4 linked regions of the Homo sapiens genome follow. The protein of the gene in region 4 interacts with the protein of the main gene of each other region in a biochemical or structural test. Each region holds a gene or a part of one and is shown on either strand. Other genes may lie near its edges.

Region 1 (7,971 bases), on a different chromosome or scaffold from region 4:
AGCACCGATGAATGGCCTTCACCTCTAGGGTGATTCCTTGCCCTCCCAGGTTCATGGCTATGGAACTGAAGGCTGGTGGCAAAGCTCTAAGCCTAGCTCCATGGCCTCCACTGGGTGCTCTTACCTGTTTACAACTGAGAACTTTTTAAGTAATTCAGACAACATTCAACTGATAGAACTTACTGGATGTGGCGAAATAACAAAGGCTCACCGAACTATTTAATTTGCATTTATTTTCTTGTTTTCTCTTTATGATCAACATTATGGCTAAACCAGACCTTCCAAGAACCCTGCTACCCAACACACACCCAACACACACACACACACACACACACACATACACACACACCCCTCTTGGCTAAAAGGCAGCAGGTGAGGCCAGAGGCATCAGAAAATTCTGTTAAAACACTCGGAGTGCAGGTAATGATCATGGTAGCCAACAAAGGCTGGTCAGCACTGGCAATAAATAATAGTCCTATGAGAGGACAGAGAGGGGCAGCAGTCTTGGGTCCAAAGTGGCCACATTCACTCAGAATCTCCACTTGGTGGATTATGCCACTTATATTCACTCAACAATCAATAGTCTCTCCTATTGATGGCTGCCATTGCCAGAATGCCTAGTTACTAAGAGCTAAGCCCCGTGCTGGGGGACCATCCACTCCTACCTAATTGAATCTTCCTGCATCCCTGAGAGGCAGACGTCATACAGTGAAGCAACGGAGGCCCAGCAACATGGACAATCTGCCCAGGATCCACATAGCTACCAGAGGGGCCACCGCAGGGCAAAGTGGAGATCAAACCCCAGTTGAGTATGGTCCTAAATCCTGAGTCCTCCACACAGTCCTCTGTGCCGGGAGAACATGAATGATGAGGAATGGACCCTTCCCACCCATCCTGATATTATCAGATCAGGCCCTTCTCACTACTCCTTCCAATGTGAAATGCTCCTTCCTCTAGAGCTTTATGTCATTTCTCTGCATGAAATAAGTCCTGGTAGCTGCTGATTAAAGAAATAAACAAGCCTCAAACAGAAGGCCAAAATCATAGACATCTTGGGTGTTGCCAGTTATCCATCCAGAGCCGGATGGGTCAGCTCTTTTTCTTCCTTAGGCTTGCAGACTGCTTGCTGACTTGATTCTGTTTTTCAGCTTCTCTGAGATGGACAGAGAATGAATGTGGAAGGCAGTGGAAAAGCTCTCCCCAGCTTTTGTGTACAAATACCAGGAGAAAAGGCAGCCTACCACTCCCACATAAAGAGCTGTAATTACTAGCTACAGAATAGAATTCTTTTGTTGTCCAGCTTTTAATGAGTTTTGTAAAAACCATGCAGAATTAAAGTGCTCTACTAAATGGTTTCAGGCAGACACACAACTAATCAAATTTAAGCTTGCTTATTTTACTCAACAGGGCTTGTTAGATGGCAGACAAGCCAAGTTTTTCCACATAAATCAATTTCAAGTTTGGTGTTGCTGATGGATCGCTGCTTTTAAACCAAAAAAAAAAAAAAAAAAGGATAAAGAGCAGAAATGTAACAGCTGAGAATGGTTACATTTAAAAACAAGGAGAATTTGCCTGACAACAGTACCCTTATTGGAACAAGTAATCACTTATGTAAGATTATTTAGATAAATTTGAAAACAAACAAAAAAAAGAAACAACACAACCTTGTAACACACATTTGAAGGTAGTTTGCTTTTTTCGCTTTGAAAGCGATCAGTTTAGAGAGATGAATGACTAATCCCAGAAATGAGTATCTGAGCATTTCCCTGCGGATGGTCGGTGCTAACATTTACTGTGCTGCGCTACTACTCAGAATTTTAATAAAGCTTAACGTGGAGATTTATCTCTCTGATTGGTGGTGGTGTGGGCAGGCAGATAACGCACAGGCGCTTCCATTGTATGGAACAAATATAATCTCTTACTGGCGAATTAAAATAAATTACTCCTGTCTCCAAAGGGGACTGCTCATTTCTTTACTTTCTAAATAACTAGCGCGTCAACTACTGTTTTAGGCTACCCTGAAATTGTGTACAGGCTAACATAAAAGGTCTCCTGCCGTAAAAAATAAAATAGGATAACACACACGCAACCCAAACACACACAAGCAAACACTCAGTTACCTCTTCATTCAAATGCTGTAGGAACGAGAAAATAAAGGCAGCCCAGCGCAACCAGATCTCATTTCCGACAGGTTCCCCACGCTCTCCTCGCACGACCGAGGGGTCCCCAGCCCGGGCCCTGGACGCGGCGAGCAGGTGACCATGGCACCCCGCGCCCCGCAGGTTCCCGCGGTGCCGCAGCCTTCAGGTGTCTTGGGCGCCCCAGATCCTCCGGGCCCGGCGCCGCTCCAGGAAGTCACCCTCAAAGCCGGGGCGCCAGGCCACCTCGGACACGCTCTCCTGTGCCCCCACTCCCGTTCGCGAAATCATGTTCGCCGGGACATCCACTGGGCAGGACCCCCTACCAGGCCTGCGTTTCCTTTTAAAAACAAAAGCGAGCGAAACAAGCCAGCGCGCCCTGGCCGCGCCCGCCGCTAGGCGACCCCGAAGACAGCGGCCCTAGCACGCAGGAACCCCCCGGCCGACCCCGCCAGCCCCGGAGGCCACTCCATAACCGGAAAACGAGCCGGCGCGGAACTCAGACGCGCGCCCCTAGAGTCCTCGCAGCAGCCGCCACCCCCACCTGCACCCCCGGCAGCGCCCCGAGATCTGCGTGTCAGTGCCCCCCGCGACCCCCGCCCAGGCCCCGGGTGACCCTCCATGGGACTGGAGCCGCGCGCCGGGCGCTCTCTGCGGGCCCAGCTCTTACCCTGCCGCTGCGGGCAGGGCCGGCGCTTGGTCGGGACGGTGGCTGCTCGGCGCCCGCGGCTGCTCGGTGCGCGCCGGGCGAGGGCGAGGGCGCCGGCCAGAGACGATCAGGGAGGCCGGACGCTGGCCGGGCGGCTCCGGGAGCTCTGAGCTGGAGCGACACCGCACTCGTCAGTCTCTGGAGGAAGTAACCGGGCCGTCCCCCACGCGGCGCGCTCTTCAGGAGCGGGAGGAGGAGGGAGGAGGGAGGAGGAAGGAGGGACGGCCGAGTGGAGGGGAGGGGAGGAAACGAGGGAGGAGAGAAGAGAGAGGGGAGGGAAGGGGAGGAGAGAGAAGAGGAGGGGAAGGGAGGTAGGCAGGATGGGGAGAAGCGGGAGGAGAGGGAAGGGGGCAGCAGGAGGGTTGGGGGAGCGGAGGGAGAGGAGAGGGAACGCACGAGGGGAGAGAAGAGGAGGGCGGAGGCGGCGAGGGAGCGCGGGGCGGGGCTGACACCTTCCGGCCCAACCTTCCCTCCGCCTCCTGCTGTCACTCGGCTGGGTCCCTCGCCGGCTGGCCCTGAGGCCCCGGGAGCAGGGCCTCGGCCCCACGTGCGCGCGAGTGTGCGCCCTGGGAGCCGGGCGGAGACTTTCCGTGGAGCGCTCGGCGTCCTCTCTGGGGCCAAGGCCCTAACGCCAAACCTGCCTTTGGAATTCCGCAGCGACGGAGCAGTGGTGCTGGTGGCACCGAAGGGCAGCCGGGCTTGGGTAATAAGGCCCTGAAATTGAGCCGACCCCATTCTTGAACCTCTGAATGGGCTTAGGACTAATGATCATTCTATCACAAAAAGGCTCCAAATGAGGCGCTTCCTGTAGAAACCGGGCCCTGGCTGTGTCCCCGAGTCGTGGTGCTGATCGCGCTGCTCCCGGGAAGCCCCGATCCCGCAGGCTCCGCGGGAGTGGCGCCCTCTGGAGCTGAGCGGTGCCCAGATAGCGACCCGCCTTGGCCGCGCTTCAATCTGGGCTGGGCACTCCACGCACATCATCGTCACTCTCGGAGGACTTGCGGCTCCCACTTTACACAGGTGGGAACTGAACCTTAGGATGAATAACCTGCCACGTCAGATTGATGAGAAATTCAAGGTGGAAACCTGAGTTTATCTGACTCCGAAACCCTGGTCAAAACCACCCCCTACACTGTGGTTTCCGTTTTTATCAGAAGGTGCTTGAGTCCATGGCTGTTTGGACTCAGGTCACATGCTCAATATTTTGCAGGAAAGTTTAGATTCCTGAAGTTGTGGATGAAATAGGAAACCCCAGCTTAGGCGAGGCCACGGGGCTGAAAGCTGCTCACATCTCAAGAACTGCGGCACCACCGGGAAGGGAGAGGAATGGCCCAGCTTCTCTGTGACTCAGGGTTCTAGGTTTCCATGGTGACTCTAGGTCTAGAGTTATCCGGATAATTGAGATATCGGTGCACCTTAATGTTTCTGGGTCCCCGAAGGTCTCCGGGTATCACCGTGGCATGAGTCACAGTCAGAATCTATACGGCTGAAACAATCACGTATAGGGGAAGTGATTATTTCTTGGAGACTGAATTGATTCTGATGGCTTCTCAGTGTATATTCAGGCCCAGATTAGAGAACACAGATAGGTCAAGAAAGAGTTCCATAAATGGAATACAGATCCATAGTAAGTTACCATGGAGACATGAGTATGTTACTATTTTTTTAAAAAACCGTAGCAGAAAATACTGACTCATCTGGGCTGCAGTTTCAGCTAATATAGGGTCTTTCTCCCTCAGGCTACTTGCACAGCCCTGAGAAGCTGGGTATAGACAGCTGCTCCCCAAAGCTCAGCTACTTCCCGAAGCTCACTTGCCCCAAGCAGACTGCCTTGTCCCACCATGCCTGCCCTCGTGTTCATGGGTGCTGAGTGCCAGGTGCTCCAGGGCTCCCTGAGTCGCTGATGGGCTCCCTGAGTGGAGCCATATTTCCTCTTTGCAGGGCTGGCACAGGCTGGGGGCTAGGAGGTGGTGCTTTGCTCATGCTGGGCTGTTTCCAACATATATGAGCAGAAAGATATCAAAAGAGGAGCACAGGAGTTTGAAGACCACCGGTTCCCGACAGTGGAACCTTCCTCTGCTCACTAACCTTGGGCCTCCTCTACAGAATAAGGGATGATTATGGAACCTACGTCCTTAAGACTATGGCAAATGACATAGAACCAAATGTGCAGAATATGTTAGAGTGTTGAGTACATGGTAGAGAAGGACTCAAAATGATCTAGCTATTAAGAATCTTTTTCCAAGCTCTCCTCAGGGAGGATTTTATAGAAAACATTTTGAAAAAACTATCATATACACGAAAAAAAAAAAAAAAGTCCTGCCCCTCGCGGGTTTAAATGTGTGAAAGCCTTGGGAAAGGGATCCCGGCCGGAAGACCAAATGGCAGAGCTAAGACGGCAGGGAGGCTGTGGGAAGAGGAAGCTGGGCCTGTGTGCTGGGGTCATCGTAAGCCTAAGCTCCTGCCTCCCACCCAGGTCCCTGGTCCTCCCTATTTCCCCTTCCAAAGAGTCTGAGGCTGCCCCAAGCAGCCCCCTTGCCCTGGGTCCTGCCCTGTAGCTGATCCACCTCTGCACGAGGGCAGTCACATGTTCATAATAAAATGGCTTATCCTAGTTCTGGGGCAATATCAGGGTTCCTTACATTTTTGTCCTTAATACTAGTTGGCTTGCCAGTTACTCAGCAGAATTAAAAAGCAGTCTGGCTGAAGCCAGTGATTATTCATTGACTGTTATCGTGCGATTCACAGGGAACAATGAGCTTTACAGTAAATTAAACCTAATAAATAAAAGTATAGCCCTTGTGCTTGGAGATCAAAAGTCGAGGGTGTTGGAAGGAAATTAAAAGTCAGAAGGTGCACAGGGTGGAGTGATCAGATGCGCTATGGCAGACTGAGTTATGAGCAATGTTAACACTTTCCCCTTAAGAAAGAGGGACATTCACAGAAGAGAGGAGGAAAAGGGATATTACAGTAGAATATATGTGTTACGAACATGAAATATCTAGAGAGTAAAATGCAGAAAAAGAATTCTTTAGAATCCAGACATAATTATGAGAAATGATTAGCTAGCTTACGAAGTCATCCTTTGAAAAAAAACACACACAAAAACGTCTCCTTAGAAACATGTCTGTATTTACCTTAAAATCCAAATCAGTAGTCAACAGGCAGTTTGTGGTGGTTTCCAGTTGCAAGTTAAACAGACGTCATTTGGTCCGAAGTGCATCATTCATTCACTTAGCAAACACAGAGTCAGATGCTGAGAAGACAAATATGATTAAGGCTTAGTTAGTTCCCGCCCTCAAGAAGTAAAAGTGAAGTGCACAGTTCAGTTAAAATCACATGCACAGTGAGACTTTGGTAAGGAGTGGAGGAAGAAAAGAATGAACCTAGAGATAGAAATCATTTCCTCATGTGTAAGCTGCCGCCTGCATCTGGCCTGCTGGGGTGTCTGGCAGTGGTGGCTATTTCACTGATATATGTTGGGGTCAAGGACTTGATAAGCTTAACCCACACTTCCGCCCACCTCCGAATCCAACCAACCTTGCCCATTTGCAGGCTGGCCCAGCTACCAAGAATCCTAGGCAGATGTGGGGCCGTGGAGCTGCCTCCTGCTCCATCAGGGTGGACCCAGATTATGCAAGAGTTGGCCAGTGTCTAGTCTTTTCTGTGAGATTCCTTGGAATGGCAGATAGGGTATTCTGCTGGTGGTCAAAAACGTTGCTAATGCTCCTTTCTAATTCCTTCTGCTCCTTGTCAGCCTCCTTTGTCCCTTGCACTCCCTGTGGGCATGAAGACATGGTTACCCAGCTAGGGCTACCGTCTTCACCTCTGAAGGGCAGCCTGTGGGCCCAGACTGCCTGGGGTCAAATCCCGCCCAGCCATTCCCTAGCAGGCCACCTGTGGGCCCCTCGGGGCCTCCCTCTGTTAATGTCTCCCAAGCACTTAGAACAGTGTCTGGCGTGTCATTAAGTGTGTGATAAATAAGTAGCAGGTCCCCTGGCCCTGGAAGTCTTGGTCTCCTGCGGGCATCGCTGATCACTGCTGCCCTGCACTGGCACTTTTGGTTGACAACAAGGTATAAAATCAATCCCAGTGCTGTCAATGGGAACCATGGTGTCTTTGACTATGTTTTTCTTGCCTTTGGTGGTCAGAAACGAGAAAATGAAACATTGGATTTTAAAACTGGAAAAAACTTCAGAGAGCTGATGGCTCAGACCAACTCTGGTTTGTAAGATGCAGAAACTGAGACCCAGGGAGGATCAATTCCTTGCCCAGGGTCAAATGCCTATTTCCTGGCAAAGCTGGGGCCACACTCCAGGCCTCCTGCCCCCTCGTCCAGCACACTGCCACCCTGACACAGTCATTTTCCCTTATAAGGCAGTACTCTGGGAGGGTATAAACCGCTTGAAAATCCACCATGATATCAAACTGCACAGTGACGTGCTTTAGGCAAGTCTGAACAACCAAAATAGTAATAGCGACCCGTTGTATTCTGTAAAACTGATAATCCCTAAATAAATGTGTCTGAACTGAGTCAGACGTGTACAGATATATGATTTTATAGTTGTGTGTTTTTGTCTGAATCACAAAATGATTCCAACAGTATGCATGGAACTGAATAATCCTCAGTGCATCGGCTTATGTATTTTGCTAACTAGAAAACTGAACCACTAGTCTTCACACAAACCAAGAGTTAGTCATTCCTGTGCCAGTCAGTCTAGCAAATGATTAAGTTAGCTTAACTCACATTTTGGTGACAAAATAAAACTTGGATTAAAGTGTTAAGGCTGAATAATGTCACCGACTTAAGCAGGTGTATAAAGAAATCATTCAGAAGTTGGAATATTTTTAAGTTATAACACGTCTTTGGTGGAATGGCTTTCCAATTGCTGCAAGACTTTCCACCCACGTCTTCCCATTTATGACTTTAAGTGTGTCTCTTTCAGACCGACTGAGCTATTAGTACCTCTTATCTATGGCTGTGGTGTAGAGTCATCCCGCCTCACCTCGTGTTCTCTGCTCCAGGCAAATGCTGCCTTTACCTCTAAATTCCAGTGGTCACCACCTGGGACATGCCCCTTTGGTGCAGGTTGAAGAACCAGAGGAGGGCCAGCACCTCCACTC
Region 2 (6,971 bases), about 81 Mb from region 4:
AAGTGCTCAGTAAACGTTAGGGCTGAGTATTCCTCCTTAGGTGAAATGAAGAAGAATGGATATGATAACTAGAAAATCATCTACATTAAAAGGTGGAGTTCAATAAGCTATACTTTCAGTACAGCAGGGATAAAGGAGATGAGGAAGCAAAAAGTAAGTTATGTCTTCACATCTAATTTTTCCCAGGATTGAAGAAACTTAAAAGATTTGCCTGAAATGCCACTAAATTGCTGCATACCACATTAATTTTGCTCAAATGCTAAATACTTTATCATTTCCATAATGAAGAAAGAAAGGGAGGAAAGGGAAGGAGGAGGGAAGAGGGAGAGAGAGAAGAAGAAGAAAGGAGGGGAGAGAAAAGAAAGAAAGAGGAAGAAAAAAGAGAAAAGAAAGAAAGAAAGAAAGAAAGAAAGAAAGAAAGAAAGAAAGAAAGAAAGGAAGGAAGGAAGGAAAGAAAGGAAAGAAAGAAGAAAGAAAGAAAAGAAAGAAAGAAAGAAAGAAAGAAAGAAAGAAAGAAAGAAAGAGAAAGAAAGAAAGGAAAGAAAGAAAGGAAGGAAGGAAGGAAAGAAAGAAGAAAGAAAGAAAAGAAAGAAAGAAAGAAAGAAAGAAAGAAAGAGAAAGAAAGAAAGAAAGAAGGAAGGAAAGAAAGAAAGAAAGAAAGAAAGAAAGAAAGAAAGAAAGAAAGAAAGAAAAAGAAAGGAGGGAGGGAGGAAAGAAAGAAGGAAAAGAAAAGAAAGATAGAAAGGGAGGGAAGGGAGGGAAGAAGGAAGGAAGGAAGCAAGGAAGGAAGGAAGCAAGGAAGGAAGGAAGGGTCCCAGCTCGTGGGACGTAATCATTCCCTTCTGCTGTTTGATGTGAACAGTTGGGAATTTTGAACTGGTAATTAGAAAATGATAGTCACTATGGAAAACAGATCTATTCACCAATAATTAAAATCACAAGGTACATCAGAACCTCAGTTATCAGTAAGAAATTCACCAGTGCAATCAAAGAGAGAAATCTGTTGATTATTTGTTTGCAGTGTTTTGCCTTCTGCCTCACCCTCCCCTAGGTGAGAGGACCTGCACCCACACACCCAGTTTGTTGAAGTATTACTTCAGACAGTCCTTGACCTCACTGGCACTCTGATTTTTCATAGCCCTATGCTGTTTACTTCTATTCTCTCATATTTGTAAACCAGGCGGGGCGCAAATGATTGCTCACCTTTTAGAGATGAAGGGAAGAAGGCACAGACACGTTCAATCCCTGTTCTCTGTTACAAAGCTAATCACTGACATAATCCAAGTGCACAGCCACTTTCCCTTCTCCGACCCAGCGCTGGTTCAAGTTCTGACCCCACTTGCCTTTGAACTCCATTATCGTCCGGGACCGGCCACTGGCCCAAGTCGGTGCTCTGGCCACAGACTGCCAGATGCCAAAGGATCCCACCCCTCTACCAGCTTCCCCCAGGCTCTGCCTCAGGACATCCTTTCACAGCCAGCAACTAGCACCTCCGTGTAAGGAGCCTGCCGGGCAAAGATGCCCCCTCCATAATTAGGCTCTCGGCTTGGCTTCCCACATCCTCAGCAGCGGAACCAGGACGGAAGAGGCTGCATGGATGCCTGAACTGTTTGTTATTTCACTATTGAGTTGGCAAGGATGGAAGTAGTTGATTTACAATTAGAAGCAGCATGCTTCTTCAAATATTAATATTAATAACTGCACTACTGAACACATGAAAAGACCTTTTCATCTTCAAAGCACTTTGCAGACATTAACCCATTAGCTCTCCCTTCCCTCCATTCAGGAACAACAGGTGAGCAAGACTCTCAACAGCAGCAGTGGCCACCCTGCAGCCCTTGTGCACAGCCCACGGCCCCTGAAGAAAAAGCGTTTTCTCTTTGGATAAAAATAGGCCACCAAACCCAAAACCACAACTGATGAAAGAGTTATAGTATCAGTAATTTTACAAATCAAATGGAGCTGATGGAGTTATCATTTTAGAATTGGTATTTCCTGCTGTTTAACAAATACTTTTTTCTCAGTTGCATGGCAGTGGTCTAAAGTAAGAAGGAAAATGGACTTGAGATTAAAAACAAAAACTTACCCAAAAGGTGATAAAGAAATCCTGCAATAGAATGCATTGATTTCAGTGACCCAGCACCCTTTTAAGTTTGCCTGAAGAAAATACTACTTTAAAAGTTGGTAACAGAGACCTTTAACGGTGGGTGAGGAGTCACATACAAAGTGTCACGGCCAGATAAAATCACCGGATGCAGAGGAATTGCCATCGACATCTCCTGCCACTGAGTCCAGCTCTACCGTGGGGACAAGAAATACCTCCCTAACTCTGAGACAACCGCGGCCCACACCCACACCATGTCTCAACAACAGACTTAGGAACTTGTAGATCTTTGGACAACTGCAGGTCAGTCCCAAGACAGAGAAAAACACCAAACAGGCTAGTTTGGCTAGCAAGATTCAAACCTGTAGCAATTTCCTCTCTATTAAAAGCAATTCATTAAACTACTAGCAGGAGAAAAAAGTAAAACAATAGATTTACTAGGAGTGAAAGAGAATAAAAAGAAATTTATATATTTAACTACAGCTTTATTTCTTTGGAAGTGCTCCAATTTGCAAAAAAAAAAAAAAAAAATCAGGGTTTCTGACAAGTAATCTACGGGTATCTAAAACGTGCATGGTTTTACTTTTGTGAAGCAGGGAACATTTTTAAAAACATAGTCTTGCTTTCAGACTATTCTGACGAGGTTAGGAAGTATTTTTGAAAATTGTTAAACAATTAAATGGGAATATAGAAAGACGTGAAAAGAGAAAGAGAAAACTCACTTGTATCCTGAATCTCCCTACCGACTTACTCTTTAATTCCACAGAAATTTTTTTAAAGCAGGAAAAGGAAAATGGACTGAAAAGTTTTAGGCAGAAACTGACACACACCTCACTTACTACTTTGCCGGAGAGCAGATCCTGAGTGAGCTTCCCTCAAAGTCTGTGGTCTCTTTCCAACTACCTGCGGGAATCCTCTGCTCCGTAGCTTAAGAGGATGCAAAGACCATAATGTTTCTAATAGAGCTGCCTCCTTAAATTGGGGGGTGTGGTCAAGCCAGGGAAAGCTGGAAAAAAGGCAGTCTTCCTCTTGCCCCTGGCACCAGGACAGCAGCCACTGGCACAGGCACAGCAGTCTAGGTGGAAAGCACTGTTGATTGACAGTGGTGGCACCAAATCACACATTATTTCGTATTCTTCAAATTGTGCTTCAGCTGAATATAACTCAGCCTTGGAGAGTAACAGGGAGGGAGATGAGCAAAAGGGAACTAGTTCAGTGGGATAACACTGTATCTCACCTCATCATTTGCTGATGCATTTACTCTCTGCTGAATATGTAAATATTCATGCTTCATGTTCCTTGACTTTCTCAATGGAGCCCCCATTAACCTAGGCAAGGTCTCAGGTGAGGGAAAGGGATTGCTTTAGAAACACAGGACGTCCACCACCCAGTCACCTGCTCAGGCTTCCCGTTTCTCTCTAATAACTTGATATGAAATGTGATATTTTCTAAAGAAAAGAAAATAATTTTGTGGAAGAGAGCTGACTGGATATGGACTTGGGATTTCTGAAAAGTAAAGCTAAAAATCCCCTTTTCATATAAGTCTGGTTTTAGGCAATCTCTAAAATAAGGATACTTTTAGCAGCCCTGACTCATGGTCCGTGGTGCAGGAATAAAAGGGCAGAAGTGTTCATACATTTCTCATTTAGGGAAAATGTAAACAATATGAAAATCTTACATCTGTCCTAAGTGAAAATACACAGCATCTTTTATTCACATATTCAGGACTATGGTAAGAATGTTACAGCATAATCTCATTTCTATGAATGGAGTTATTACAATTTTTTTTGAGAAGTCAGTATTTGGCTGCTTAATCTAAGACTTTTATCCTAAAAGATTCCATCTTCTTTGAGTAGGAGGTGGGAGTTAAGATTTGTCATAGTTGGCTTCTTTCTCTTTTTAATAAAGATACAAACTTAGAAAATCCTTGAAAATCTAATAACTGTCATTTGGAGCCATATCATCATCAGCCTTCATTGTATAAAGCTGGCAATGCAGTTAAGATGACATTGTAAGTAAAGCAAGATTTTACTGCTCATCTTCTGCCTTTGCACATTAACTTGGAAGTAAGGAAGAGGTAATGCTATTGGTTCACTTTAGTTTAATAAATTGCCTGTGCCAGGCACTGTTCTAGGCACTAGAAAGATAGCAAGTTTGCATTGTAGTGAGGAGACAGACACATAAATCAACGATCTCCCCCCAAAAATGTAATACATGCTACAAAAGAAGTCTATGAAGAGAGCTAGGGAAGCTTCAGCCTGCCCCTGTAACCCAGTCAATTTCAGCACACTGCCCCATTTAAAGAGCCCACGGTCAATTATACCAATCATAACTAATTACAACTGTATTCACTATGTTTGCAGGATAATTGAAAAAAACAAAGTTGAGAAGACTTGGATTCTTGCTCTATAAGGGTGTACAGTGTGGCTGTCAAGGGGTTCTGAAGTCTGGAGTTGTCTATGCTGAGTTTATATAGAAAGCAACTCTTCAGGACCTTAGCTCCCTCCTCTGACACGGCCTTTTACGGTGTGGAAGAACATAAACTAGAAATCTTAATAGTGCAAAATAAGCCACCACTGTCATAAATTGCCTAGAGAATGCCCAGGAAAACAGTAAGTTTTGTTTTAAACAGTATTTTCAAAAATATAACATTAGATGGGTATCCACATATAAGAGCATGACATTGGACTCCTACCTTACACCATACTCAAAAATTAACAAAAATCTATCAAAGATCTGAACATAAGAATGAAAATTATAAAATTCTTAGAAAAAATCAAAGAAGAAAACTTCATGACATTGGATTTAGCAATGATTTCCTGGGATATGACAGCTTATCCCAGGAAAAAAAACTTGGGCAACAAAAGAAAAAATAGATAAGTTGGACTTTATCAAAGTTTTAAAATGTTGTACATCAAGGGGCACTATTAAGACAGTGAAAGGGAAGTCCACAGAATGAGAAAAAAAATTGCAAATCACATATCTAATAAGGACTTAATACTCAAAATATATAAAGAACTCCTACAACTCAACAGCAACAACAACAAATAACCTGATCTAAAAGTGGACAAAAGACATGAGTAGACATTTCTCCAAAGATGCAGAAATGGCCAATAAACACACGAAAAGAAGGGCAACATCATTAATCATCAGAGAAATGCACATTCGAACCACAGTGAGGTACCTCTTCACATCTATTGGGGTTCCTATTATCAAAGAAACAGAAAATAATGGCAAGAATAAGGAGAAATAGGAATAAGGGTGTGTTGCTGCTGAGAATGTCAAATGGTGCAGCCACTGTAGAAAACAGTGTGGTAGTTCCTCAAAACAATTAAATATAAAATTACCATTTGATCTAGCAATTCAACCTCTACATATATAGCCACAAGCATTGAAAGAAGAACTCAAAAAGATGTCTGCACAATATTGTTCATAACAGCGTTATTCACAATAGCCAAAAGGTAGAAACACCCCAACTATTTATCCACAGATAAATGGATAAGCAAAATGTGGTATGTACAGAAAATGGAACATTATTCAGCCTTGAAAAAGAATGAAATTCCAATACATGCTACAGTATGATGAACCTTGAGGACATTATGCTAAATGAAATAAACCAAATACAGAAAAGACAAATATTGTGTAATTCTACCTGTATGAAGTACCTAGAATAGTAAAATTTATAGAGACAGAAAAAGGGATAGAAGTTAACACAGGTTGGAGAAAGGAGAATGGGGAATTCGTGTTTAATGGGGACAGAGCTTCGGTTGGGGATGATAAAAAAGGAATGGAGATGGATGTGGGTGATGGTTGCACAACATGTGACTGTACTTAATGCCCCTGAATTGTACACTTAAAAATTGTTCAGATGGTAAATTTTACGTTACATGTATTCTACCACAATAAAAGAATATGTTGTCCCGAGGGAAAAAAAAAATATATATATAGCATTAGAAGTCAGTAGGCTTCCGCAGAAGGAATGCTTTCTGATCCACATGGATAATATAGGACAAAAGAAAATGATGCTCTAGAAGAAGAAGGTATGAAATCCCTGGAGGATCCCTCCACTGCACGGTGGTGGCTCCCCAGCCCCTCCCTTATGCCGGCTCTTGAAGAGGGTGTAGTAATACCAGCCCAACTTCACAGGGTTGCTGAAATCACCATGCGATTAGATGACTGTGTAAACAGTAGAAGCAATGCTTTTCTTTCCCATGTCCATAGATAGCTCTATGAGGAAAGACCTCAATTGATAGGGCAATATGACCATTATGATTCTCAAGGAAAAAATTAAAACTCAGTGATCCAGGGACATGGGTACCTTTTGATCCCATGTAAAAGGGATATGCAAAATGAGTTGTTTGCTTCTTTGAAGGAGTATCTCTGTAGCCTCACCTAAACAATCGTAGTCTCAATATAGTTTGGATACAAGTGAGACAGAGCATGAAGGAATTTCTAGAATAGCTTTTCTTACTGTAAGGAAACCTTTTTCCTTTTCTCAGTATAACAAGTTACCTTGTAAGTTAGTATGTCTTAAGAGGAAAAATGGAAGTAAATTCCCAGAATCTTAGCTCTGCAAAGGTCTTCAACGCTCCCACCAGCAACCTTCCCTCACTGCCACCCCAACTCCCTAAAGTGCAGAAGTCCCCTTCAAAGCAACTTATAATGATTCTGTAAAACCACCCGCTGCAGGAAAAGTGTGAAGTTTGAAATTAAAAATGGCATTAAATTTAAGGAAAAGCAAAGCAAAACATTACACACGTATTGCATTTTCCATATTAACTTTCCTTCCATCTCAGAAAAAAGCCTCGTGATAATTCAGAAGACTTCATATGTGCAGAGAACCAGTATCTAAACAAACTACCAAAAC
Region 3 (7,023 bases), on a different chromosome or scaffold from region 4:
TCATCATTTAAATACTGAGTACTTAGCAGGGCTAGAAAGAATCATTAGAATCTATACACTTTAATGTACTCGTTTTACAGATAAATCTGAAGGCCAGATGGGTAAAGTGATTTGCGTGGACTAGGGTCAGGGTCAGAAAGTTAGGAGTCCAGCAAGGGCTAACTCCCAAATCTCCTGACTCCCATTTCATCTTCTTTCCACTAAACTCTATATGCTGTTTCTCACTTAAGACCTACCGTGTTAACACAAGGATAAATCCTTGGAAGCTTTTTGCAACACTCCGCAAGAACCACCTTTAGTTCCCCCATACCAAGGCTCTGAAGCCTTGGTAGGCAGGATCTGAGAAAAAGCTGAAAGCCTTCTGGAGATGGAAGACTGGAACTGGGTCTTGAACAATGAGCAAAAACAACTAGCATTTACTGAACTCACCATGCACTAGGTATGGTGCTACACAGATGCCTAATGTGGATTACTGAATGAAATCCCTACAACATTGCTGTGAAGTATCAACAGTATTCCACTTTACAGATAAAAATAAAAGAGGCTGAATTGACCAAGATCATATTGTTAGCACACAGAATGAGGAGAGTTCCTGGCACAATGCCCTCCTGCCACAATAGCTGTCAGGCCCACATTCATACACCGTTATGAATGAATAGCAATGAGAAAGGAGGGGCTCTCACACTACAGGTGAGGATTAATAGCACTGAAAGAGTTGTTAGTGTTCATGTGTGGGGACACTGAGGAAACCTAGTTTGATTGTTGAGGGGGTGATAAGGCAAAGTTGCTTAGATGTTATACAGAAATAGTTTGAGATTTGATGCAGTTAAGAAATGAGAACTATTAATAGCATGCATCCTTGACCTGGGGACTGGCAGGTTAAAAAAAACACTTTAACCATGTACTGTATAAGTACTATATAAGGCCAATTAGAGGAGACTGGAGATTAATTTGATGGATATTGCAATAGTGCAAGTGGAATGTGATGTTAATATAGAATGGAGTATCAGCAAATGGGAGGAATCTATTAATTCAAGAAACACTGATTGCTTGGTTCAGAACTGGATACTAAACCCAACAAATACATCTAAGTCAGTACTTAAATACAACTTACTTAAATAGAATTAAGTCCAATAAATATAACAGAGAACGAAACAATCCTCTACCCTCTATACAACTTACAGTCTAGTGAAGGAAACAATCTTGAAAAATTCAACAACTTAAATATTATTACACTGTAAAGAAAAGGGCCAAGTGCAATGGTGTGCGCCTGTAATCCTAGCACTTTGGGAGGCCAAGGCGAGAGGATCGCTTGAGCCTAGGAGTTTGAGACCTGCCTGGGCAACAAAGTGAGACTCCATTTCTACAAAAAATTTAAAAATTAGCTGGGCATGGTGGTGCGTGGCTATAGTCCCAGCTACTCGGGAGCCTAAAGTGGGAGGATCACTTGAGCTGGGAGGTCAAGACTAAAGTGAGCCATAATCACACCACTGCCTCCAAAAAAAGAAAAGATGTTGTAAGAACATACTGAGAGAGAAGAGATCTATTCTAGATAGGGTATTTAATTAAACCCAGACCTAACAGATAGGGAGATAGACATGCATGAAAAAGATAAAGGGCATACAGACTGAAAATTCTAAGGACAAAGACCCGTGGCAGGAAGTAGACCAATGAACAGTAAACAGCAGCATAGAGACCAAGAAGTAGAAATGCAGTTAGAGGTAGACAGGAGCTGGAGCATGTAAGGCTTTGCTGGGCATAGTAGTAAGCACTTTGGATGTCAGTCTAAGTGCAAATGGGAAAGGGTAGGGGTTGAAGGAGCTTGAGCAGAACAGGGACTTGATAGGATAAACATTTTAAAAAGATCACACTAGGATGTGGAGAGTAGGCTAGAGGGGAACAAAAGTGGAAGAAGGGAAACCAAATTAAGCAGCTATTTTATAAATCTAAGCCAAAGAAGAGAGGATTAGACCAGGCTCACATCAGTTAGAAGGGAAAAAAGTAAACATTCAAATTATATTTGTGATGGGGTAATAAAACCTGTTCAATAAAAATAAAACTTGTTCCTTGAAAATTAAGAAAAGTGTGATTTTCAAGAAAGAATGAATAGTAATAAGTGACAAAGACGAAGAGCATCTCAACCCTCCAAGTAGCTGGGACTACAGGCATGCATCACCAGGCCTGGCTAGTTTTTGTATTTTTTTGTAGAGATGGAGTTTTGCCATGTTGCCCAGGCTGGTCTTGAAATCCTGGGCTTCCCACCTCAGCCTCCCAAAGTGTTGGGATTACAGGCATGAGCCACCAAGTCTGGCCTAGTGGTTTTAAGATAAAAGATAATCTAAAGAGACATAAGATTGCATCCAGTTTAGAGAATGTGAGTAGTCCCAGAGTAGGAAAATAGCAAGAGGACACTGCTGAAGGCTTCAACTCAAGTCAATACAAGGTAATAAAGAGAAGAATAAAATGTATATGTCTTCCTACCTGCATATGGGGACTATCCTTTTCCTTTGGAGAGAAAAATCGTCCACCTTCACCACGCTTCCGTGCCATGGCATGACGGTGCCGAGACTCATGCAGGTATTTCTAAAACGAGAAATAAAACCATTTAACTATTAATACTATCCAGAACCAGCACAGTTATCTAGTGCACAAATTCCATTCTCCAAAGTTTAAGACAGCTGGGATCAAAGTCACAAGGGACAATTATGACTTAGAATGACGATGGAAGCTTTGGAGAAAACACCTAGTAAGTAATATAGCTAACCATATATAACTACTGTAAGACTGTGAATGCTTATAGTATGAATTTTTTTTAAAAAAAATAACAGACTACCACCTACACTTCACAATATATACACTTTCCTCTGCTTTAATAACAGGCCAAATTTCGTTTGAGCAAATGAGTGTTCAGTAAAAAGACTTTCCTAGCATTAAAGTTTATTATTATTATTTTCTAGAAACAGGGTTTCACTCTGACACCCTTGCTGTTGGACTGCAGTGGCATGATCATGAATCACTGCAGCCTTGAATTCCTCGGCTCATGTGATCCTCCTGCCTCTGCCTTCCAAGTAGGACTACAGGCATTTGCCACCACACCAGGCTGGACTTTCCTAGCCTTATCTGCATGTTAGGTGTGATCAGGTAACTAAATTCCGGCTAGTGGAAGGTACACAACTTCTTCAAAGTTTCCTTGAAAGAAAGGGTACCTGGCCGGGTATGGTGGCTCACGCCTATAATCCCGGCACTTTGGGAGGCCCAGGCAGGTGGATCACCTGAGGTCAGGAGTTCGAGACCAGCCTGGCCAACATGGTGAAACCCCGTCTCTACTAAAAACACAAAAATAAGCTGGGCGTGGTGGCGCACACCTGTAATCCCAGCTACTCAGGAGGCTGAGGCAGGAGAATCACTTGAACATGGAAGGTGCAGGTTGCAGTGAGCTGAGATTGTGCCACTGCACTCCGGCCTGGATGACAGAGCAAGACTGAGTCTCAGGAAAAAAAAAAAAAAGAAAGGGTACCTTTCTTGTTCCCTTTCTTCCTAGGCTGGAGCCTAAGCAGGAATCTTGGACCATGAACAGCACACTAGCAATATTAAAGCAGTGAAACAGGTCTTGAGAACTGTGAAAATGTGCTACCAGTCCAGGATAATTTATCTCTGGACTACTTTTATGTATGAAAAGGAATAACATCTTATTTAAGCCACTGTTTGTTTTCGTTATTATAACTGCAGCTGCATATTAGTAATAACAAATGCTAACTCTTACAAAAGAGACAACAAGTATCTAACGTCAATTGTTTGGAAGGTACGTGAGAAAACAAGCCATATAAAAGATAATTTCAAAAGTAGAACCCTGCTATTCTCCTTTCCTATATCCTTCCCAATGTTATACATACCCTTCTCTCCTTTGGAATTTTCCCTTCTGCCTCTAGTTTAGCTCGGGCTTGCCTCCTCTTAAGAATACGGTGGTATTGTTTGGCATTCACGTAGAGAGGCTCTTCTTCAAGCATCTCTGCTCCAGGTAGAGGGATTCTTTGGATAGCAGGCACAGAGCCAGCCCCAGGAACCATCTGTGTGAACAGGAAACCAGAGCTTATTGGTGGCATGAAGTATGGACATAGAAACAGTTTCTTGGTTCCTCTTCATCCATTTTTTTTGTAAATGCCACAAAAAGTAATTTTTATAGGGTACTTGGGTAAATGCGGATCCCTGGAGAAATTTATACTAAAGATCTGCACTTTAAACAAACACCCCAGATGACTGTGTCATAGGAGATTCAGGTGCCACTCTGAGAAACTATATAACCATGCCCTAATTCATGTCCACCCATGGCTCTAGATATTTCTGCTGCCATCTAATGGTCAGGAACAGTAGTCATAAGACAAAAAAACAGCACAAAAATAGATAGACCAAGTGCTACTAAATGCCTATATTTATAAAAATAATAGTTAACTTATAATTCAATCCTAATTTTTCTTAAAAAACACCAAAACACTGTACTAAATGTAGGTAAAAACAAGTAACAGAGTCCTGTACCCCACAGCTCTTTCCCAAATACAACCGCTTTGAATAACTGTATTGAATCTTTTATAAAAATTATTTATTTTTCATTCAATTCGTAGAAACGAGGTCTCTCTACATTGCCCAGGCTGAGCTCAAACTCCTGGACTTAAGCCATCCTCCTGGATTAGCCTCCCAAGTAGCTAGGACTACAGGTGCATGCCACTGAGCCAGGGTTGGTTCTGTTTCTTTTCATAGCTTCCTCCACCTCTGTGCAGACTTCTGTTACTCATTCTTAATTTATGCATTTTAACATCCTATTTTGACATATGAGGATTTAGCTTTCAGTTACACCACCCAAATCTTCCTATCTTCCCAATACATTTACATGACACTTTTTTTTTGGTTTCTCTATCAATTACAATCTTTCTAATTTTTAGCTTATTTCTTATTTTGTCCATCATGGGCAATACTACTTTCCACTTCTCAAAGATTAGTATATAATTCCCTTCGTTATTTGAATTCTGAAAAGAATTCCATAAAATCACTATTTATCCATTGCTTTATCTCCAGCATCTAGAATAGTCCCTGGTGAATAGTCCCTGGCACATAGTAGGTGCTCAGAATGAATTATGGTTTGTCATAATGTTATTGTCAAAGTAGATTACCGACAGTGCCTTAAGGATCGATCTCAATCCCAAGAGGTCAACATAATAAATTTTAGGAGGCATCAAGTTGCATGTTCAAGAAAATTTCAAAGACAAAGCTGAAAAATACATTTTCTTACCATGACCATCCCTCCTGAATTGACCACATTGCCTGCCACTGGTAGTGTCACAGTGACAGTCCCTTGCCCACTGCTGGTTGTGTTGGTATTGGCTCCTGTTTGAACAATCTGTGCTCCTGCCAAACTGGCTGCTGGGATAGTGATCATGCCTGAAACAGGGACTGTAACTTTAAGAAAACAAAACATAAAACAAACAAAAAACAGGCACACAGAACAGAAAGAAGGGAACATAGTTAGTCCCTCTTCTATCTGGTATACACTCACCGATCCTGGCAAAACACACTGAAAAACACAAGGGGAGAAAAAGTACTCTCCCACTGTGGTGTGCTATATATAATCTAAGTAATCACAATCTTTGAAATTCTATTAACTGTCTAGGTCCCAGTTTTGAGTAACTCTATCCTTAGCAGTTTTCAAAAGGTGAAAAGGTTTGGAGGCCTCCTCTTCTACAGGTCAGTCTGACTACAGCTATACCTACTGCTCTTGTACATAATGAGCAATCTGCTTCAGGACAGAGATTTTAAAACTTATACTTTGTTTATCTCAAACTGACAATGAGTCAGTTGTAGTATTAAAACTTAAAATTAAACCAAGCATTCCAAGTCCCCAGACTATCAATAGCAGCACTTGAGGATTTGTTCACCATTCTGTTTGAGCTCTTGCCTGGGCTCAATCCAGTTCAGGGCCTCCCTGGAGTAATACAAGAGCACACAGTTAGTGCACTCTCTGGATCCTGTATATTGCAAATTTGCAATCACAAAGTCATGGAATCTAACAAAGATGTCCTTTTTTGATTTAACTATTTGACTAACAGGTGCTTCCAAAAGCCTTCAAGTTCAGTTTCTGCACTCCTCCTCCCAGACCAAACATCTATTATTTATGTTATCTATTCCTAGAACATACTTCCATGAGGGCCCTGCATTGTATTTATTTGTTCACGTCTTTCTTACTAGACTAGAGGCTCTTTGAGGACCCTTCTTAGTAAAAGTGCTGTATACATAATAGTCATTTAAAGTAATGGAATGACCCAGAAAAAAACATAAGCAGCAATAGCACTCTAAAGCCAACTTGATTTTTGATCTATTTCTCTCTTTACCAATGAACTCCCTATTTCTATTCTTCTGTTTAGAAACACTTCTTCCCTAAAAGCTTACACAATCCCTAGATTAGCAACCACTATAGAAACTGCTACACATGGAATCACTGTTGGTCACAGATGGTGACAAGAAACCAACAATCAATGGAGAGCTAGAGGAAATCTTTTTTTTTTTTGTCCAAAAAATATGTAGTGTCAAGTTCACCACTCAAATTCTAAAGATGTCAGTTGTCTAAGGGACAAAAAAGTTGCCCCAAAAAGTCCTAGGGAAGCTTATGGGTACACTTACCTTGCTGGAGAATGGTGCCATCTGCATTAACTGGTTGATAGACGATGGTCTGCCCTTCAGCAGTCTGTGCCACTTGCTGTCCCTGGACAGCAATCTGCTGCTGTGTCTGGAGGAAATAAGTAATGACACAATTCAACAGATCCCAAAGATACTAACAAAGAACGATGTAGTCCTTAAAAAAAAAAATTATTTTTTTGAGACAGAGTCTCACTCTGTCGCCAGGCTGGAGTGCAGTGCAGTGGCGCAATCTCAGCTCACTGCAACCTCCGCCTCCTGGGTTCAAGCGATTCTCTGCCTCAGCCTCCCGAGTAGCTGGGATTACAGGCATGCGCCACCATGCCCACCTAATTTTTG
Region 4 (7,023 bases):
TAAATGATTCCCAGGACTTCTTTGGAATTCTGAGAATCAGATCAAGTTTGCTCTCAAAGGCAGTGAACTGCAGCATCATCGCTGCACCCCCACACCTGAGCCTCCATTATGGAGCCTCTGCAGTGTGTCAAGGTGCGGGGTTCATTTCTTCCATGGTTATCTGCTGGTTCTGTCCTTGTGGTCTTCTTTATAAACAAGGAAACAGGCTTAGGGTGCTAGGAGACTTGCACAAGGTCACACGGCTGCTGGGTGGAACCCAGGTCTGTCCGCTCCAGGTCCTGTGCTTTTTTTTCTGCCCCTGCCTAACTACCCACCTCCTCCTCTCTGTTCTCGTCACTCTCTGTCCCAAACTCCCCGCCGGCACATCCGCACTTCCTGCCATGTGTGGTTGGCAGGGTTTCCTAACTGTGGCACTGCTGACATTTTGGGTGGGATGATTCCTGGGTGGGCTGTCCCGGGTACCGTAGGAAGCTTAGTGGCATCCTTGCTTCTACCTACCACATGCCAGGGCCATGGCCAATCATGACAACCAAAAATGTCTCCACCCATTGGCAGATCCCCCCGGGAGGCAAAATCACCCCTAATTGGGAACTGCTGGGCCGAAGGAAAACCTATGAGAACCTCTTGTTCAGCAGAGGCCGAGGCCCCCAGTTTGCTGAAGTGGGAGGAAGAGGCCTGGGCCAGGGTGTCCTTCTGTCTGTCCAGTCCTTCTGGGTCTGACTGTCTGCCCCATAGCCCAGCCTCCGTCCTGGAGCAAATTCAGGGGATGGGAGAGAGGCATTAGGTGCCTGGGACCTGAGCAGGGGGCTGCGGGAGGTTGCCCAAAGTGGATCTTGGCTTATTGATGTAGACATCCCTGACCCAAAGCGAGGTGGCCTAGTCAGTGGGTGAGTCGTCACTGGGGAATTCCTCAGGGCGTCTGGGACCCGGGCAGACCAGCGACTGGGGTGTCTGCACCTCAGAGGGCAGAGGCCCACAGCCTAGGAAGGTGTCACTCCTGAAGGCCACCCCTGCGGCCAGTCATGCCTGTAGCTCCATTCTGCAGATGCACCTGTGGCGGTCTAAACCTGATGGGCCCAGCTAGGGATCCACATGTGCCTGGTCCACATTTAGGGCCCCAGATTCATCCGGAACTCAGACTGGAAGCCATATCCCAGGGGTAGGCGGATATGCCTCCAGGCCACAGCTGGGAACGCACAGGCATCTTTTAGAATCTTTCAGGGCTAGAAAGCCTTTAAAATATCCTTTTTAATTCCTTCAAGCTTATTTGTAATTATGTAAAAAACACATCCTCTTGGTGGGAAACCCAGGCAATGTAGAGAGAAAGTCCCCCTCCCCCAACTCCATCCCCAGCTCTCCCTACCAGAGTGAAGAGCCCGGTCTGGGGGACCCAGAGACCACGCACCCACCTTCCCAAGCGGTTCCAGGACTCCAGGAGGTCCCGCTGGGCCCTGGGACAGGCGCCCCCTGGTGGCTCGGGTCACCACAGACAGTGCTGTCAGGCCTCCTCCAACAAGGACGCATTCTCCCTGGCCCAATCCCTCTTCAGTTCACTGGGCTTGGGTGCGTTTCCTTTGGGCCTTTTGCAGCCTCAGTTTTCCTTCCTGTAATATGAGGGCGCTGCCCACATAGCTGGAAACCAGTGAGCCTGGGGCTGGGCCTGATGGAGTGAGCACTTTAGAGAAAGCATGTGTTTTCGTGGCTCAGGGTCCAAGCAGGTTCCTTATATCTCAGGTGGGACTCTAGGAATGACTCCTGATTGGATGCCTGGGCACCCCATGTTGGTCATGAACCCCTAGTTCCTCCAGAGACTCCACCAGTGTTCCCAGGTGTCCTCGGCCTTGGCTCTGTCCCACTCTTAATCACTGCCAATCAGGGCATTTGGGCTGTCCTTTTCTTTTTTTTTTTTTTTTAGGACAGTCTTGCTCTGTTGCCCAGGCTAGAGCGCAGTGGCCCAATCTTGGCTCACTGCAACCTCCGCCTCCTGGGTCCAAGCGATTCTCTTGCCTCAACATCCCAAGTAGCTAGGATTACAATCGTGCACTACCATGCCTGGCTAATTTTTGTATTTTTAGTAGAGATGAGGTTTTACCATGTTGGCCAGGCTGCTCTCAAACTCCTGACCTCAAGTGATCCACTTGCCTCGGCCTCCCAAAGTGCTGGGATTACAGGTGTGAACCACCGCGCCCAGTCTGTCCCTTTTTTTTGATACGGAGTCTCGTACTGTCGCCCGGGCTGGTGTGCAGTGGCACAATCTTGGCTCACTGCAACCTCCGCCTCCCGGATTCAAGCGATTCTCCTGCCTCAGCCTCCCAAGTAGCTAGGATTACAGGCGCCTGCCACCACGCTCAGCTAATTTTTTGTATTTTTAGTAGAGACAGGGTTTCACTATGTTGGCCAGGCTGGTCTCGAACTCCTGACCTGGTGATCCGCCTGCCTCAGCCTCCCAAAGTGCTGGGATTACAGGCGTGAGCCACTGCGCCCGGCCGGGCTGTCCCTTTTTATACCCGCTGGAAGGTATCGTCTGAAGACTCAACCATAGAGACCCCCACACACTTCTGTCAATTCCTGCACGTCCTCTTTGTCCACATTTTTAGGTACTGAAGCTTAGTGAAAAAGCTTTGGCCCAGCCCTGGCTCCATCACTTACCAGCTGTGAAAACTTGGGGCAAGTAACATAACCTTTCTGAGTCCCTATTTCCCCATTTATAAAACTGACAGCATGAAAATACTTACCTCCTAGGGCTGTGATGATTCAGCGAGGTAAGGCATATAATCTCTGAGGTAAGGTAACGTGCAGAGGACGAGGCCCGTGCTAGCTTCACTGCATTCCTCAAGGCAGGAGGGACAAAGCGGCTGGGGAGTGGGAAAAGCACAGAGGGCTCTGTGAGAGACCAACTGGGTTATTTTCCACTGACCCAGGGGACAGTCAATCTGCCACCCACCCCCACATCCATGCACTCACCCTCCCATCCACCCACCTACTCGTCCATCCTGCCAGCCGCTTCCCATCTGATCCACTTTTCCTCCCTATTCCATCCATTAAATAGTTTCTGAGTATCAGACACTCTTGTAGGCTCTGGGGAGTCCATGATGAGCACCAGACAAGGCCACTGCTCTCACAGAGCTCACTCTCCAGCGAGGGGATGGGGACATAAGGAATTAAATAGGCTGGGGCGTGGTGGCTCATGCCTGTAATTTCAGCATTTTGGGTGGCTGAGGTGGGTGGATCACGAGGTCAAGAGATAGAGGCTATCCTGGCCAACATGGTGAAACCCCATCTCTACTAGAAATACAGGTGGTGGTGCCCACTTGTACTCCTAGCTACTTGGGAGGCTGAGGCAGGAGAATCGCTTGAACTCCGGAGGCGGAGGTTGCAGTGAGCTGAGATCGCGCCACTGAACTCCAACCTGGTGACAGACAAAGCGAGACTCCAGCAAAAAAAAAAAAAAAAGAATCAGACAAAGAGACCATTTTCTGCAGATGTAATGCGGAGTGTCTACATGGGGGGCTGCTTTCATTTGAGTGGTCAGGGAAGGCCTTTGAGGTGGCAGCTGAGCTAAGAGAAGGAACTCGTAATTCACATGTGACCATAGGTAGGGGAGAGGTATTCAAGGTAAAGGGAACAGAAAATGCAAAAGCAGAAAGGACCCTGACAGAGGACCAGAGAGGCCAGTGAGCACAGGGCAGGGGACAGAAAGGGAAGCCAAAGGGGTCAGCTGCTCACGCAGGGCGAAGGCCATGGCAGGCATTTGGATTTTATCATACACACCATGGGAAGCCACTGGGGAGTTCTGAGCAGGGAAATGACATGACCATGATCTGAATAACCTTCTGTGTATGTGTGTGTGCTGAAAATTTAAATACATTTACAATCTTTTTTTTTTTTTTTAAGACGGAGTTTCACTCTTGTTGCCCAGGCTGGAGTGCAGTGGTGTGATCTTGGCTCACTGCAACCTCTGGCTCCCAGGTTCAAGCGATTCTCCTACCTCAGCCTCCTAAGTAGCTGGGATTACAGGTGTGCACCACCATGCCCAGCTAATGTTGTATTTTTTAGTAGAGATGGGGTTTCACCATGTTGGCCAGGCTGGTCTCAAACTCCTGACCTCAGGTGATCCTCCTACCTTGGCTTCCCAAAGTGCTGGGATTATAGGCATGAGCCATCACGCCTTGCCTTTTTTTTTTTTTTTTTTTTTTTTTGAGATGGACTCTCGCTCTGTCGCCCAGGCTGGATTGCAGTGGTGTGATGTCAGCTCACTGCAACCTCCACCTCCCGGGTTCAAGCGATTCTCCTGCCTCAGCCTCCCGAGTAGCTGGAACTACAAGCGAGTGCCACCATGCCCAGCTAGTTTTTTGTATTTTTAGTAGAGGCAGGGTTTCACCGTGTTAGCCAGGATGGTCTTGATCTCCTGACGTTGTGATCCACCCGCCTTGGCCTCCCAAAGTGCTGGGATTACAGGCGTGAGCCACCGTGCCCGGCCTCCAGTCTTTCTATTCCAGTGCTATGTAAATGTACAAATGAAGATGTGGAATAGAGACTTAGAGCATTATTTATTGGCAAATATTTATTGAGTGCCTTTGATGTGTCAGGCAGCTTGATTTTTCAGTTAGAGATATATTTTATTTACTTGTACAATCAGAATTCAACTTTAGTCATTCACAACACACACACACACACACTCACATTTCTCCACACATCCCCAATTCATTACTCTATATGGTAACATTTGTTAAATCAGTATTTGAATTTTCCACTGTTATGACCATGTGGCTATTACTCACAGCTGAGCCACATGGCATCCTTTCTTTACCTGTACTTTCTCATATCCATATTTCTTTTAATTATTATTATTTTTTTATGAGACAGTCTCACTCTGTCGCCTAGGCTGGAGCACAGTGGCGCAATCTCTGCTCACTGCAGCCTCAGCCTCCTGGGTTCAAGCAATTCTCCTGCCTCAGCCTCCTGAGTAGCTGGGATTACAGGTGCCCGCCACCACGCCCAGCTAATTTTTGTATTTTTAGTAGAGATGGGGTTTCGCCATGTTGGCCAGGCTAGTCTTGAACTCCTGACCTAGTGATCTGCCCGCCTCGGACTCCCAAAGTGCTGGAATTACAGGCGTGAGCCACCATGCCTGGCCTTTTTTTTTTTCTTTTTTTTGAGACGGTGTCTCTCTGTGTTGCCCAGGCTGCAGTGCAGTGTGCAATCTCAGCTCACTGCAGCCTCCACTTCCCGGGTTCCAGCAATTCTCCTGCTTCAGCCTCCTGGGTAGCTGGGATTACAGGTGTGTGCCACCATGCCCAGTTAATTTTTATATTTTTAGTAGAGGTGGGGTTTCACCATGTTGGCCAGGCTGGTCTCAAACTCCTGACCTCAGGCGATCCACTGGCCTCAGCCTCCCAAAGTGCTGGGATTACAGGCGTGAGCCACTGTCCCCGGGCCTCATCCCCATATTTCTGAGGGGAAATGTAGCAAGGAGATAAGAACTCTTCTGAAACCAGGCTGCTGAAACTCATCCCCCATCTCCTCCATTGCTATCCGGGTGACCATGGGCAAGATCTCCAACCTCTCTGTGCCTCAACTTCTTCATGACAATACCAACTTCACAGGATGGCTGTAAGGACTGAACGAGCTACTGTATGTCAAATGCTTAGAACAGTGCCTGGAAATAGCAAATGTTTTGTACAGATTTGTTATCATGGTCGTCTCCTAAGAAAGGGTGTGTGGGAGGTGAGGTTTTTGTTGTGGTGGTGATGGTTTTATTTTGTGTTTTGCCTCATGTCTTTTATTCTATGCTGTCACTTAATTAATCATAGTTTGGCTGTGTATGGAAATCTAAGTTGAAAATCATTTTTTCCCTTAGAAATTGGAAAGCATTTTTCTACTGTCTTCTGGTTACTAGAGTTTTTCCTATGAAGTCTGATACCACTCCATGTTCCTTTAAATTTCTTTTATAATTAACCTAGCTTTTTGTTTGTTTCATTTGTTGTTTTTTTTTTTTCTCTCTCTCTCTTTTGTTTTCTTTCTCTGGAAGTTTTTAGTATCTTTTCCCAATGTCTCATGATTCAACTGAGTAAGCTTTTTAAAAGGTCACTCTGGGTGGAGAGCAGATGGAAAAGAGGCAAGAATAGGAGCTGGAAAAAAGAACATTGAGGAAACTATTGCAATAATCCAGGAAAGAGATGGTGGTGACCTGGACAAGGGTGGTGGCAACAGAGACAGAAAGGGGGGGACAGATTCAAGATAGACTTTGAAGGGCTTACAGGATTTGCTATTGTTTATTATGCTTTTTGTTTGTTTGTTTGCTTTTTTGAGACAGTCTCACTCTGTCACCCAGGCTGGAGTGCAGTGGCGTGATCTCGGCTCACTGCAACCTCTGCCTCCTGGGATCAAGTGATTCTCCTGCCTCAGCCTCCCGAGTAGCTGGGATTACAGGCATGCGCCACCACACCTGGCTAATTTCTTTGTGTGTATTTTTAGTAGAGACAGGGTTTCACCATGTTGGCCAGGCTGGTCTTGAAGTCCTGACCTCAGGTGATCCACCCGGCTCAGCCTCCCAAATAGCTGGGATTACAGGAATAAGCCACCATGCCCAGCCTATTACTCTTTTTAATTGTGGTAAAATACACATAATATTAACCATTTTTTAAACCATCTTAACCATTTCTTTACATTTTAAGTGTATAGTTCTGTGATATTAAATATATTCACGTTATCATCACCATCCATCTCTATAATTATTTTCATCTTGCAAAACGGAGACTCTGTATTCACTGAACAACAGCTCATTTTCCCTCCCCCCAGCCTCTGGCAGCTACCATTCCACTTTCTGTCTCTATGAATTTGCCTATTCTAGGTACCCCGCATGAGTGGATTCACACAGTATTTGTTCTTTTATGCCTTCATTTAGCATAATGTTCTCAAGGCTTACCCATTTACCCATGGTGTAGCACGTGTCAGCATTTCCTTCATCTTTAAGGTTGAATCATATTCCATTGTATGCGCGCGCCACGTTTTGCGCATGTG

The links.
Region 1: the proteins of SPI1 (region 4) and ETS2 form a complex in vitro, tested with the Homo sapiens proteins (one study listed by BioGRID).
Region 2: the proteins of SPI1 (region 4) and ETS1 form a complex in vitro, tested with the Homo sapiens proteins (one study listed by BioGRID).
Region 3: the proteins of SPI1 (region 4) and NFYA form a complex in vitro, tested with the Homo sapiens proteins (one study listed by BioGRID).

Annotation. Positions count from the first base shown.
Region 1 is NC_000021.9:38,800,958-38,808,928, reverse strand, and holds the start of ETS2 (protein C-ets-2), read right to left. Parts: upstream 3,001-7,971; 5' UTR 2,959-3,000; coding exon of another isoform or gene 2,809-2,958; exon of another isoform or gene 2,121-2,808; intron 1,493-2,120; exon of another isoform or gene 1-1,492. UniProt on the Homo sapiens protein: Transcription factor activating transcription. Binds specifically the DNA GGAA/T core motif (Ets-binding site or EBS) in gene promoters and stimulates transcription.
Region 2 is NC_000011.10:128,584,554-128,591,524, forward strand, and holds the start of ETS1 (protein C-ets-1), read right to left. Parts: upstream 3,006-6,971; 5' UTR 2,935-3,005; exon of another isoform or gene 2,124-2,934; coding exon of another isoform or gene 2,087-2,123; exon of another isoform or gene 1,787-2,086; intron 376-1,786; exon of another isoform or gene 1-375. UniProt on the Homo sapiens protein: Transcription factor. Directly controls the expression of cytokine and chemokine genes in a wide variety of different cellular contexts. May control the differentiation, survival and proliferation of lymphoid cells.
Region 3 is NC_000006.12:41,089,956-41,096,978, reverse strand, and holds part of NFYA (nuclear transcription factor Y subunit alpha), read right to left. Parts: intron 6,776-7,023; coding exon 6,670-6,775; intron 5,452-6,669; coding exon 5,285-5,451; intron 4,068-5,284; coding exon 3,894-4,067; intron 2,584-3,893; coding exon 2,482-2,583; intron 1-2,481. UniProt on the Homo sapiens protein: Component of the sequence-specific heterotrimeric transcription factor (NF-Y) which specifically recognizes a 5'-CCAAT-3' box motif found in the promoters of its target genes.
Region 4 is NC_000011.10:47,368,536-47,375,558, reverse strand, and holds part of SPI1 (transcription factor PU.1), read left to right. Parts: intron 1-7,023. UniProt on the Homo sapiens protein: Pioneer transcription factor, which controls hematopoietic cell fate by decompacting stem cell heterochromatin and allowing other transcription factors to enter otherwise inaccessible genomic sites.